3 linked regions of the Homo sapiens genome follow. The protein of the gene in region 1 purifies or fractionates together with the protein of each later gene. This does not show direct contact. Each region holds a gene or a part of one and is shown in the gene's direction. Other genes may lie near its edges.

Region 1 (3,500 bases):
CTGGGCGAGAAGAGCAAAACTCCATCTCAAAAAACAAGAGTAAATAGCTAATTTAATTTTATAAAGAAAACTAGGAGATAAACTGATGACCGATATGAACAGAGATTTTTCCAGTAAAGCAATACCGACTCTAAACATACCAAAAATGTTTGCACAGAGTAATTATAGGGGAAAAATGAATTTAAGCTTAAAGCATGCTTGAGGTTTTATGCATACTAGACTAGCAGGAAAAAAGTAGTTGATAGCAATGCTGGCAAGGCAATGATTAAAAGCGTACACAATTGTAGGAATAAAATTGATGCAAGCCTTTTGGAAAACAGGATGGCATGGGAGCCATGTTTTACATATGTAAATTTATTATTGTTTGGATCTAAAGCCATGCATAATCTAGGAAAATTTTAAAATTAAAAATTTCTAAGGAAATTTAAAAATGACAGCATTTCTATGTTATGTTACAATGAATTTCTCCTTAAATTGACACAATTTACATTTTAAGCAAATAAATTCCTATTAGATAAATTTAATAGGAAATTTAAAAATTAAAGGACTTCAGTTCCTTTTAACTAGTAGTCTCACCTCCAAGATTTATCCTAGGGAGATAATTCAGCAGAAGCAAACAGCTAAGCTAAGCTATGATATTAACAAATGCTACTGTTGATTGACTAAGTAATTATGTCAAATAGCGTGCTAGGTACTTGTTATATTTTCTTTTAATTTAACTCATTTAATCCTCACAAAAACCTTATGAGTGAGATACTTTTCAAATGCAGGAAATGGCACATTCATTGCAACACTATACATGGAGGTTAAAAATTATATCCAAGAGGTTGACACATACAACTGTCTGGACCCTTAGAACTGATAACCATGAAAACTGATTGTGGGCGAAAATATATATGTTTAACAGTACAAAATGCTGTGTGTAGTGAAACTGAAAATATGGGCTGGGCTCAGTAGTTCACACCTGTAATCCCAATACTTTGGGAGGCCAAGAAAGGAGCACTTGAGCCCGGGAGTTAAAGACTGCAGTGAGCCATGATCATACTGCTGCCCTCCAGCCTGGGCGACAGAGCAAGACCCTGATTCTGAGTGAATGAATGAATGAATGAATGAATGAATGAATACACATGGACATAGACTTCAAAATAATTTTCAGCAAGGGTACGGTGGGTTACTCCTATAATCCTAGCACTTTGGGAGGCTAAGGCAGGAGGATTGCTTGAGGCCTGAAGTTCAAGACCATCCTGAACAACATAGCAAGACTCCATCTCTACAGAAATAATAATAATTATTTTTCTTCTAGCTAGGAGGAGTGGTGCACACCTTTAGTCCCAGCTACTCAGGAGGTTGAAACAGAAAGATCATCTAAGGCTAGGAGTTCAAGGCCAGTTTGGGCAACATAATGAAAACCGCCTCTTTAAGCAATAATAGGCCGGGCGCGGTGGCTCATGCCTGTGATGCCAGCACTTTGGGAGGCCAAGGTGGGTGGATCATGAGGTCAGGAGTTTGAGACCAGCCTGACCAACATAGTGAAACCCGGTCTCTACTAAAAATACAAAAATTGGCCAGGCATGGTGGTGCGTACCTGTAATCCCAGCTACTCAGGAGGCTGAGGCAGGAGAATCACTTGAACCCGGGAGGCAGAGGTTGCAGTGAGCTGAGATCACGCCATTGCACTCAAGCCTGGGTGACAAGAGCGAAACTCCATCTCAAAAAAGAAAAAAAATAATTTATGCTCATTATGGGAAATTTGAAAAAATATAGCAAAGGAGGAAAATCTCCCATTTTACCATCAACCCAAAAGTAGGTAGAATAGAACTGGTTTATTTCCTTCTGAGTACAAAATTCTGTATCTGTCATTTTTCTGTATTGCTAGTCTTGTACCTTTTTTTGAGACAGCGTCTCGCTCTGTTGCCCAGGCTGGAGTGCAGTGGCATGATCACGGCTCGGTGCAGCCTCCACCTGGGCTCATGTGATCCTCCTGCCTCAGCCTCTCAAGTAGCTGGAGCCACAGGCCTGCGCTACCACACCCAGCTAATTTTTGTATTTTTTGTAGAGACGGTTTTGCCATGTTGCCCAGGCTGGTCTCAAACTCCTGGGCTCAAACATTCCTCCGACCTTGGCTTCCCAAAGTGCTGTGATTACAGGCATGAGCCACTGTGCCCAGCAATCTTATATTTTAATGGCTGCATAATTTGACTGAGTGGAGGGACTTAGGGGTTGGAGCCAGAACTTTTGTCATAGGTAACTTTAAGTTTGCTCAAGGTTCTGCAGAAAAACTGGCATCTCTAGCTTCTTTTTGACTTTGGAGCAAGGAAGAATTCCTTAGTCTGTAAATTATAGCATTGGTCTCCCCTTGTCTGCCTTGGCCATGGGATCTTCCCCATTTTCCTGCGTGGTGTCTGCTTGGAGCTGTGCAGTGTCCTGTGATGAACCTATCAAGAGGAGCCATCTGCAGCATGTCCCTGTGGTTAATAAACTGACCCATGCTACCAGGCCCCTGGATAATACAGCCTGTCAGCACTGGAGCACATCTTACCTGGGCCATTTCTATTCTGGGGCATTGCATTTCAAACTGTTCTTTCCAGTAGAAAGACTATAGGTGAGCCCATTCCCAATTTGTGGTTAAAAGTAGGATGTCAATATATGGCAAGCCAAATGATGGGCAATGGTAGAGGTCACCAGGAAACACCTGTTGGCTTCTACAGGAGGCCACACAAAATAGAGACTCATTTCAGGTTCAGCCATAGGGGTGCTACGGTGGACCTACTGATCCCCAAAGAGAGAACATTGTATAATACCAAAGGATCTCAGAAGACCTATAGAAGCAGGTCTGACTCAGAGCTTGGGGTCAAGACTGGCCAGGTCTTCTGTCTTTCCCCTCTCCTTAGGCCAGTCTTCCCATATTTTTTTTCTTTCATTGTTTTGAGATAAGTCTTAATCTGTCACCCAGGATAGAGTACAGTGGCATGATCACGGCTCACTGCAGCCTCAACCTCCTGAGTACCTGGGACTACAGGTGCACACCACCACACCCAGCTAATTTTTGTATTTCTTTGTAGAGACGGGGGTTTTGCCATGTGGGCCAGGCTGGTCTTGAGCTTCTGGGCTCAAGCAAGCTGTCCACCTTGGCTTCCCGAAGCATTGGGATTATAGGTGTGAGAGCCAAGCACAAAAGAGCAGGAGCCTATCTTGTACGTTTCTATCTTAAAGTAAGAACTACACATTAATTTTACAGAGATTCTTGATTTTTTAATGTAATAATTAATTAAAAGACTAGGAATTCATGGGGATAAGAATCTTGACCACAACACTATGGAACTGTAGCTGAGCAAGGTGGCTCACACCTGTAATCCCAGCACTTTGGGAGGCTGGGGCGGGCAGATTACTTGAGGTCAGGAGATCAAAACCATCCTGGCTAACACAGTGAAACCCCATCTCTACTAAGAATACAAAAAATTAGCCAGGCATGGTGGCACGCACCTGTAGTCCCAGCTACT
Region 2 (3,500 bases), on another chromosome or scaffold:
ACATATAAGGGTGAAATGATGACCAACACCTCCTTGCTTGTTAGTCATGTCTGTAAAAGAAATGGTTCAATATCTCAAGTTGTCTTGCCATTTACCTGCTTTTAATGTCTGTTTTGCAGATTGGGATCAAAGCCACTCACATTAAGTTACCAAGAACAACCACAGAATCTGAGGTGAGCTTTTATGAGTTGATTGTGAAGAGGGAAGGTGAAGTGGTTTCCTCTCTGGTTTTGGTTTACGGGGGCTTTGGGGACTGACACATTTAGCCAAGACCTCCAGGTATTTTTTTTTTTTTTTTTTTTGAGACACAGTTTTGCTCATGTCACCCAGGCTGGAGAGCAATGATGCGATCTCGACTCTCTGCAACCTCCGCCTCCCAGGTTCAAGCAATTCTCCTGCCTCAGCCTCCCGAGTAGCTGGGATTACAGGCGCCCACCGCCTCACCTGGCTAATTTTTATATTTTTAATAGAGACGCGGTTTCACCACGTTGGCCAGGCTGGTCTTGAACTCCTGACCTGAGGTGATTTACCCGCCTTGGCCTCCCAAAGTGCTGGGATTACAGGCGTGAGCCACCACGCCTGGCACCTCCAGGTATTCTTTCTTCACAGACTCCCACAGAGGAGATGGTGCAGGGATGAACATTTGGTACTCAAAGTGTGACTGCAGTACTGTTTGCTTCCAAATCATCTGTTGTGTTTGTTAAAACTGATCCTTGGAGCCAGGCACGGTGGCTCATGCCTGTAATCCCAGCATTTTGGGAGGCCGAGGTGGGCAGATCACCTGAGGTCGGGAGTTCGAGACCAGCCTGGCCAACATGGAGAAACCCTGTCTCTACTAAAAAATACAAAATTTGCCAGGCGTGGTGGCGCATGCCTGTAATCCCAGCTACTTGGAAGGTTGAGGCAGGAGAATCACTTGAACCCGGGAGGCGGAGGTTGCAGTGAGCCAAGATCGTACCATTGCACTCCAACCTGGGAAAAAAGAGCAAAACTCCGTCTCAAAAAAATAGGTAAAACCGATCCTTGGCCTGTAATTATCTGCATTCTAAAAACCAAATATGTATTCCTTTTATATGAGGTTCAGGACTAGGCAGAACAAATCAGCGGTGATTAAAGTCAGAACTGTGGTTGCCTGTAGGTGGGAGATTAATGCTAAACTGTAGGAGGATAAAGCAACTTTCTTGAGGTTATGGCAATGTTCCATATATGCGCTGTCCAGTATGGGAGCCACTAGCCCCATGAGGCTATTTGAATTTAGTTAAAATGAAATAAAATTAAAAATTCACTTCCTTGGTTGTACTAGCCACTTTGCAAGGATTAAGTAGCTGCTATTGTATTGTAAGGTGCAAATTATAGAAAATTTCTGCCATCGCAGAAAAGATGATTGGACATTGCTGCTCTACATCTTGATTTGGATGATTGTAACATGGGTATTATTGCTGTAATAAGTTATTAGAGTTCTTAGCTCTTTTTATTTTATTGTATTGTATTTTTAGAGACAGGGTCTCACTCTTTTGCCTCAGCTGCAGCACAGTGGTGTGATCATAGCTCATTGTAGCCTCAACCTCCTAAGCTCAAGTGATCCTCCCACCTTAGCCTCTTGAGCAGCTGGGACTATAGGCATGAGCCACCATGCCCAGCTAATTTTATTTTATTTTTGAGGCAGAGTTTTACTCTTGTCGCCCAGGCTAGAGTGCAGTGGTGCAATATTGGCTCACTGCAACCTCCACCTCCCAGGTTCAAGCGATTCTCATGCCTCAGCCTCCTGAGTAGCTGTGACTACAGGCATGCGCCACCACGCCCAGCTAATTTTTGTATTTTTAATTGCCCATATTGCCCAGGCTGGTCTCAAACTACTGACCTCAAGTGATCTGCCCACTCAAGCCTCCCAAAGTGCTGGGATTACAGGCGTGAGCCACCGCACCTGTCCCCGCTTTTTTTTTTTTTTTTTTTTTTTTGAGACAGAGTCTTGCTCTGTTGCCCAGGCTGGATGCAGTGGCATGATCTCAGCTCACTGCAGCCTCCGCTTCCTGGGTTCAAGCGATTCTCATGCCTCAGCCTCCTGAGAGGCTGAGATTACAGGCATGCGCCACTATGCCCGGCTTATTTTTTATATTTTTGTAGAGACAGGGTTTCACCATGTTGGCCAGGCTGGTTTCAAACTCCTGGCTTCAAGTGATCCAGTAGCTGCTATTGTATTGTAAGGTGCAAATTATAGAAAATAATTTTCTATATTTTGGGAGGCCTGCCTTGGCTTCCCAAAGTGCTGGGATGACAGGTGTGAGCCACCACACCCAGCCCTAATTTTTTTTTTTTTTTTTTGAGGTGGAGTTTCACTATTGTTGCCCAGGCTGGAGTGCAATGGCACAATCTCAACTCACTGCTGGAGTGCAGTGGCACTATCTCAGCGGACTGCAACCTCCACCTCCCAGGTTCAAGCAATTCTCCTGCCTCAGCCTCCCGAGTAGCTAGGATTACAGGCATGTGCCACCACACCTGGCTAATTTTGTATTTTTAGTAGAGACAGGGTTTCACTATGTTGGCCCAGCTGGTCTCAAACTCCCAACCTCAGGTGATCCACCCACCTCAGCCTCCCAAAGTGCTGGAATTACAGTCGTGAACCACCGCACCCAGCCCCTGGCCCTAATTTTTAAAAAGTTTTTGTAGATATCACATTTCACTGTGTTGTCCAGGCTGGTCTTGAACTCCTGGGTTCAAGTAATCCTCCTGACTTGGCCTCCCAAAGTGCTGGGATTACAGGCATGAGACACCTCGCCCAGCCTCTTAGCTCTTTTATTTGATGGACTTCTTACCAGACACCTAGGGGATGCATTCTATGTTAAAGTACAGGTGCTCTCAGGATTCAAGGGGAAGGTACATTCTGAAAGGACTATAATTAAAGTGTTGGGGGGAAATAGGGCAACCTAATTTTTGCCTTAGAAAGTGTTTCTTCCTACCTTTTGATTTCTGTGTGATATACAAATTATATATGGTATTACTTTTAGGTGATGAAGTACATTACATCTTTGAATGAAGACTCTACTGTACATGGGTTCTTAGTGCAGCTACCTTTAGATTCAGAGAATTCCATTAACACTGAAGAAGTGATCAATGCTATTGCACCCGAGAAGGATGTGGATGGGTAAGTGTGGCTTGGCTTCCTATGTCTCATTGCATGCTTTCATTTATAATATGTTTCTATTTGGGGAATACAGCATAAATGTTTCTAAAGAGTAAAGACATCTAATTGCCTTTATTTCCTTCTTATTTCCATCACTTTTTTAAGATTGACTAGCATCAATGCTGGGAAACTTGCTAGAGGTGACCTCAATGACTGTTTCATTCCTTGTACGCCTAAGGGATGCTTGGAACTCATCAAAGAGACAGGTAAAAACAACAAACCAAACAACAAGAAAGCACCATTTCCTGAATCCTGGTCTTGACATGTGGTGGCATAGAGGAGGTACATTGTGGGCCATAAATAAATGGACTTGATTGGC
Region 3 (3,500 bases), on another chromosome or scaffold:
TATAAGAATTATAGGTATTTATATACTGTAAAATGAAAGTAATTATGTTACCTGTCCCAGGTACCCAGAAAAAATTCAGGCCTCACTTCATCGAGCACACTGCTTCCTTCCAGCTGGCATTGTGGCAGTGCTAAAGCAGCGCCCCAGATTGGTGGCTGCAGCAGTCCAGGCATTTTACCTACGAGACCCTATTGACCTGCGAGCTTGTCGTGTTTTCAAGACATTCTTGCCTGAAACACGAATAATGACATCGGTGAGATTTCTATCTTGGTCATTTAGTTTCTCTTACTGGAAACCGAGTTGAAACATTATTATTTTTTTCTTTTTACATTTCTCAGTGCTCAGTGAATGAAACATTATTTTAATTGTTCTCTAGAAAAAAAAGGAAATATTCTGTTTCTTCATAGCATGTTAATATAGATTGAATATTCCTTATCTGAAATGCTTGGGACTAGAAGTATTTCAGATTTCAGATTTATTTGGATTTTGGAATATTTGCATTAAACTTACTACTTGAGCATCCCAAATCTGAAAATTCTGAAATCTCAAAACTTTGAGCATATCGTTGGGACTCAAAAAGTTTTGGATTTTGGAACATTTTAGATTTCAGATATTTACATTTGGGATGCTCAAACTATACACGTTTTTTCTTTTCTTGCACCCAGTGAAGGAAATTTTCAAGAGACCTGCCTCCCCATTTTATACTCAATGTTTTATAGCTATTTTTGACCATATGTTTCTATTTCTATAATTATTTCCTTTTTTTTTTTTTTTTTTTTTTTTGAGACAGAGTCTCACTCTCTCACCCAGGCTGGAGTGTAGTGGAGCCATCTCAGCTCACTGCAACCTCTGCTTCCTGGGCTCAAGCGATTCTCCTGCCTCCCGAGTAGCTGGGATTACAGTCACCTCCCAACACGCCCAGCTGATTTTTTTATTTTTAGATGGTGTTTCGCCATGTTGGCCAGACTGGTCTCGAACTCCTGACCTCAAGTGATTCACCCACCTCAGCCTCCCAAAGTGCTGGGATTACAGGTGTGAGCCACCGCACCCAGCCTAATTATTTCCTTCTTAACAATAAAACATTTCATCTCTTCCAGAGAATTAAGAATTATTCTTGGCCGGGCATGGTGGCTCACACCTGTAATCCCAGCACTTTGGGTGGCCAAGGCAGGTGGATCACTTGAACCCACGTGTTTGAGACCAGACTGGGCAACATGGTGAACCCCATCGCTACAAAAAATAAAAAAATTAGCTAGGTGTGGTGGTGGGCGCCTGTAATCCCCGCTACTTCGGAGGCTGAGGTAGGAGGATTGCTTGACCCCAGGAGGTTTGGGAGGCCAAGGTGGGCAGATCACCTGAGGTCAGGAGTTTGAGACCAGCCTGGCCAGCATGGTGAAACCCTATCCCTGAGGCTTCAGTGAGCCATGATTGCTCACTGCACTCCAGTCTCTGCAACAGAGCAAGACCCTGTCTCAGAAATAGAAAAAATGAATTATCTTTATCTTCCAGCCATTTAATTGCTGTATAATGTAACTAATGATAAGAATTTTACTAGCGATTACTAAAAAGTAGGCAGTAGGGTAAAATTTTTTTTGCAACAGTGTCTTGCTCTGTTGCCCAGGCCGGAGTGCAGTGGAGCAATCTCAGCTCACTGCAACTTCCTCCACCTCCCGGGTTCAAGCAATTCTCCTGCTTCAGCCTCCCGAGTAGCTGGGATTAGAGGCGTGCGCCACCATGCCTGGCTTATTTTTGTATTTTTAGTAGAGATGGGGTTTCACCATGTTGGCCAGGCTGGTCTCAAACTCCTGACCTCAGATGATCTGCCCACCTTGGCCTCCCAAAGTGTTGGGATTACAGGCATGAACCACCATGCCTGGCCAGCAGTAGGGTAAATTTTATGGTATGTGAGTTGTATCTCAATAAAGCTGTTACTAAAAACAAGTAGGCAATGAATAGGTTGAATCTTCTTTGCATTTCATATGAATATGAAGCTTATAAATGGACTTCTCATTATATTTAACTGTGAAGTGTTATTCACAATCTTAATTTCAGGAAAAGACTCATGTATTTTGTGTCTTGATGCCCAGGTCACATTCACTAAATGTCTATATGCACAATTGGTGCAACAAAGGTTTGTGCCAGACCGGCGGAGTGGATACAGGCTGCCTCCTCCATCTGATCCCCAGTACCGAGCCCATGAATTGGGCATGAAATTGGTAATGTTGAACCAGAAAATGTTGTTTCCTTTCTTTATGTAAATGGACTCTTAATAGAATAGTGGCACAATATACAAAGTCCAGAAATACACCCTGTTTATGTAAGAATGCAGTAAAATGTGGCATTTCAAATTAGAATGAAAAAAATGGATTACTTAGTAAGTGATGATGGGACAAGTCTGAAGTCATCTGAAAAATTGAAGTTGATTCCCTAATACCTATACCAAAATAAATTCCAATTGGATCAAATATTTGAACATAAAAATTGAAACTATACAATTTGAAAAAAAACCAAGAACCTTTTATAATTTGAATAGGAAAGGCCTTTCTATGCATGACTTGAAACCAGAAGCTATAAAGGGAAGACTGATGAATTTGATTATGCAAAAATTAAGCATTTCTGCACGGGAAAGAAAAACTCCATAAATAAAGTCAAAAGCAAATCTGGAAAAAGTGTTATATTTGCAATCTAAATGAAAAAGAGCTGACTTCTCTAATACATAAAGTGTTCCTTTAAGTCAATATGAAAATGATAATACTAGCCAATTAATTTTAAAATGTTCAGAACTATGAACATAGTCCACAGAAAAGGAAATACAGGTGACCTTTAATTTAAACATATGAAAAATATTGAATCTTAACTCATAATAAAAGAAATGCACTTTAAAGCTACAAAATAGTGTTTTTCTTTTTTTTTTGTTTGCTTTCAAAAATGTTACAATCTAGACATTGATAGGAATGTCTAGATTTTCTTTTTTTTTTTATTATTATGCTTTAAGTTTTAGGGTACATGTGCACAACGTGCAGGTTTGTTACATACGTATACACGCGCCATGTTGGTGTGCTGCACCCATTAACTCGTCATTTATATTAGATATATCTCCTAATGCTGTCCCTCCCCCCTCCCCCCACCCCACAACAGGCCCCGGTGTGTGATGTTCGCCTTCCTGTGTCCGTGTGTTCTCATTGTTCAATTCCCCACCTATGAGTGAGAACATGCGGTGTTTGGTTTTTTGTCCTTGCAATAGTTTGCTGAGAGTGATGGTTTCCAGCTTCATCCATGTCCCTACAAAGGACATGAACTCATCATTTTTTATGGCTGCATAGTATTCCATGGTGTATATGTGCCACATTTTCTTAATCCAGTCTATCATTGTTGGACATTTGGGTTGGTTCCAAGTCTTTGCTATTGTGAATAGTGCCACAGTGAACATACGTGTGCATGTGTCTTTATAGCAGCATGATTTATAATCCTTTGGGCATATACCCAGTAATGGGATGGCT

The links. The genes of interacting proteins can lie anywhere in the genome.
Region 2: the proteins of SLC7A6OS (region 1) and MTHFD1 purify together in Homo sapiens (affinity purification with mass spectrometry, with the first as the bait; one large-scale study listed by BioGRID). This does not show direct contact.
Region 3: the proteins of SLC7A6OS (region 1) and ECD purify together in Homo sapiens (affinity purification with mass spectrometry, with the first as the bait; one large-scale study listed by BioGRID). This does not show direct contact.

What each region holds. Positions count from the first base shown.
Region 1 is NC_000016.10:68,304,447-68,307,946, reverse strand, and holds part of SLC7A6OS (probable RNA polymerase II nuclear localization protein SLC7A6OS), read left to right. Parts: intron 1-3,500. UniProt on the Homo sapiens protein: Directs RNA polymerase II nuclear import.
Region 2 is NC_000014.9:64,412,353-64,415,852, forward strand, and holds part of MTHFD1 (C-1-tetrahydrofolate synthase, cytoplasmic), read left to right. Parts: intron 1-119; coding exon 120-173; intron 174-3,005; coding exon 3,006-3,142; intron 3,143-3,286; coding exon 3,287-3,387; intron 3,388-3,500. UniProt on the Homo sapiens protein: Trifunctional enzyme that catalyzes the interconversion of three forms of one-carbon-substituted tetrahydrofolate: (6R)-5,10-methylene-5,6,7,8-tetrahydrofolate, 5,10-methenyltetrahydrofolate and (6S)-10-formyltetrahydrofolate.
Region 3 is NC_000010.11:73,151,009-73,154,508, reverse strand, and holds part of ECD (protein ecdysoneless homolog), read left to right. Parts: intron 1-60; coding exon 61-253; intron 254-2,087; coding exon 2,088-2,216; intron 2,217-2,803; exon of another isoform or gene 2,804-3,500. UniProt on the Homo sapiens protein: Regulator of p53/TP53 stability and function. Inhibits MDM2-mediated degradation of p53/TP53 possibly by cooperating in part with TXNIP. May be involved transcriptional regulation. In vitro has intrinsic transactivation activity enhanced by EP300.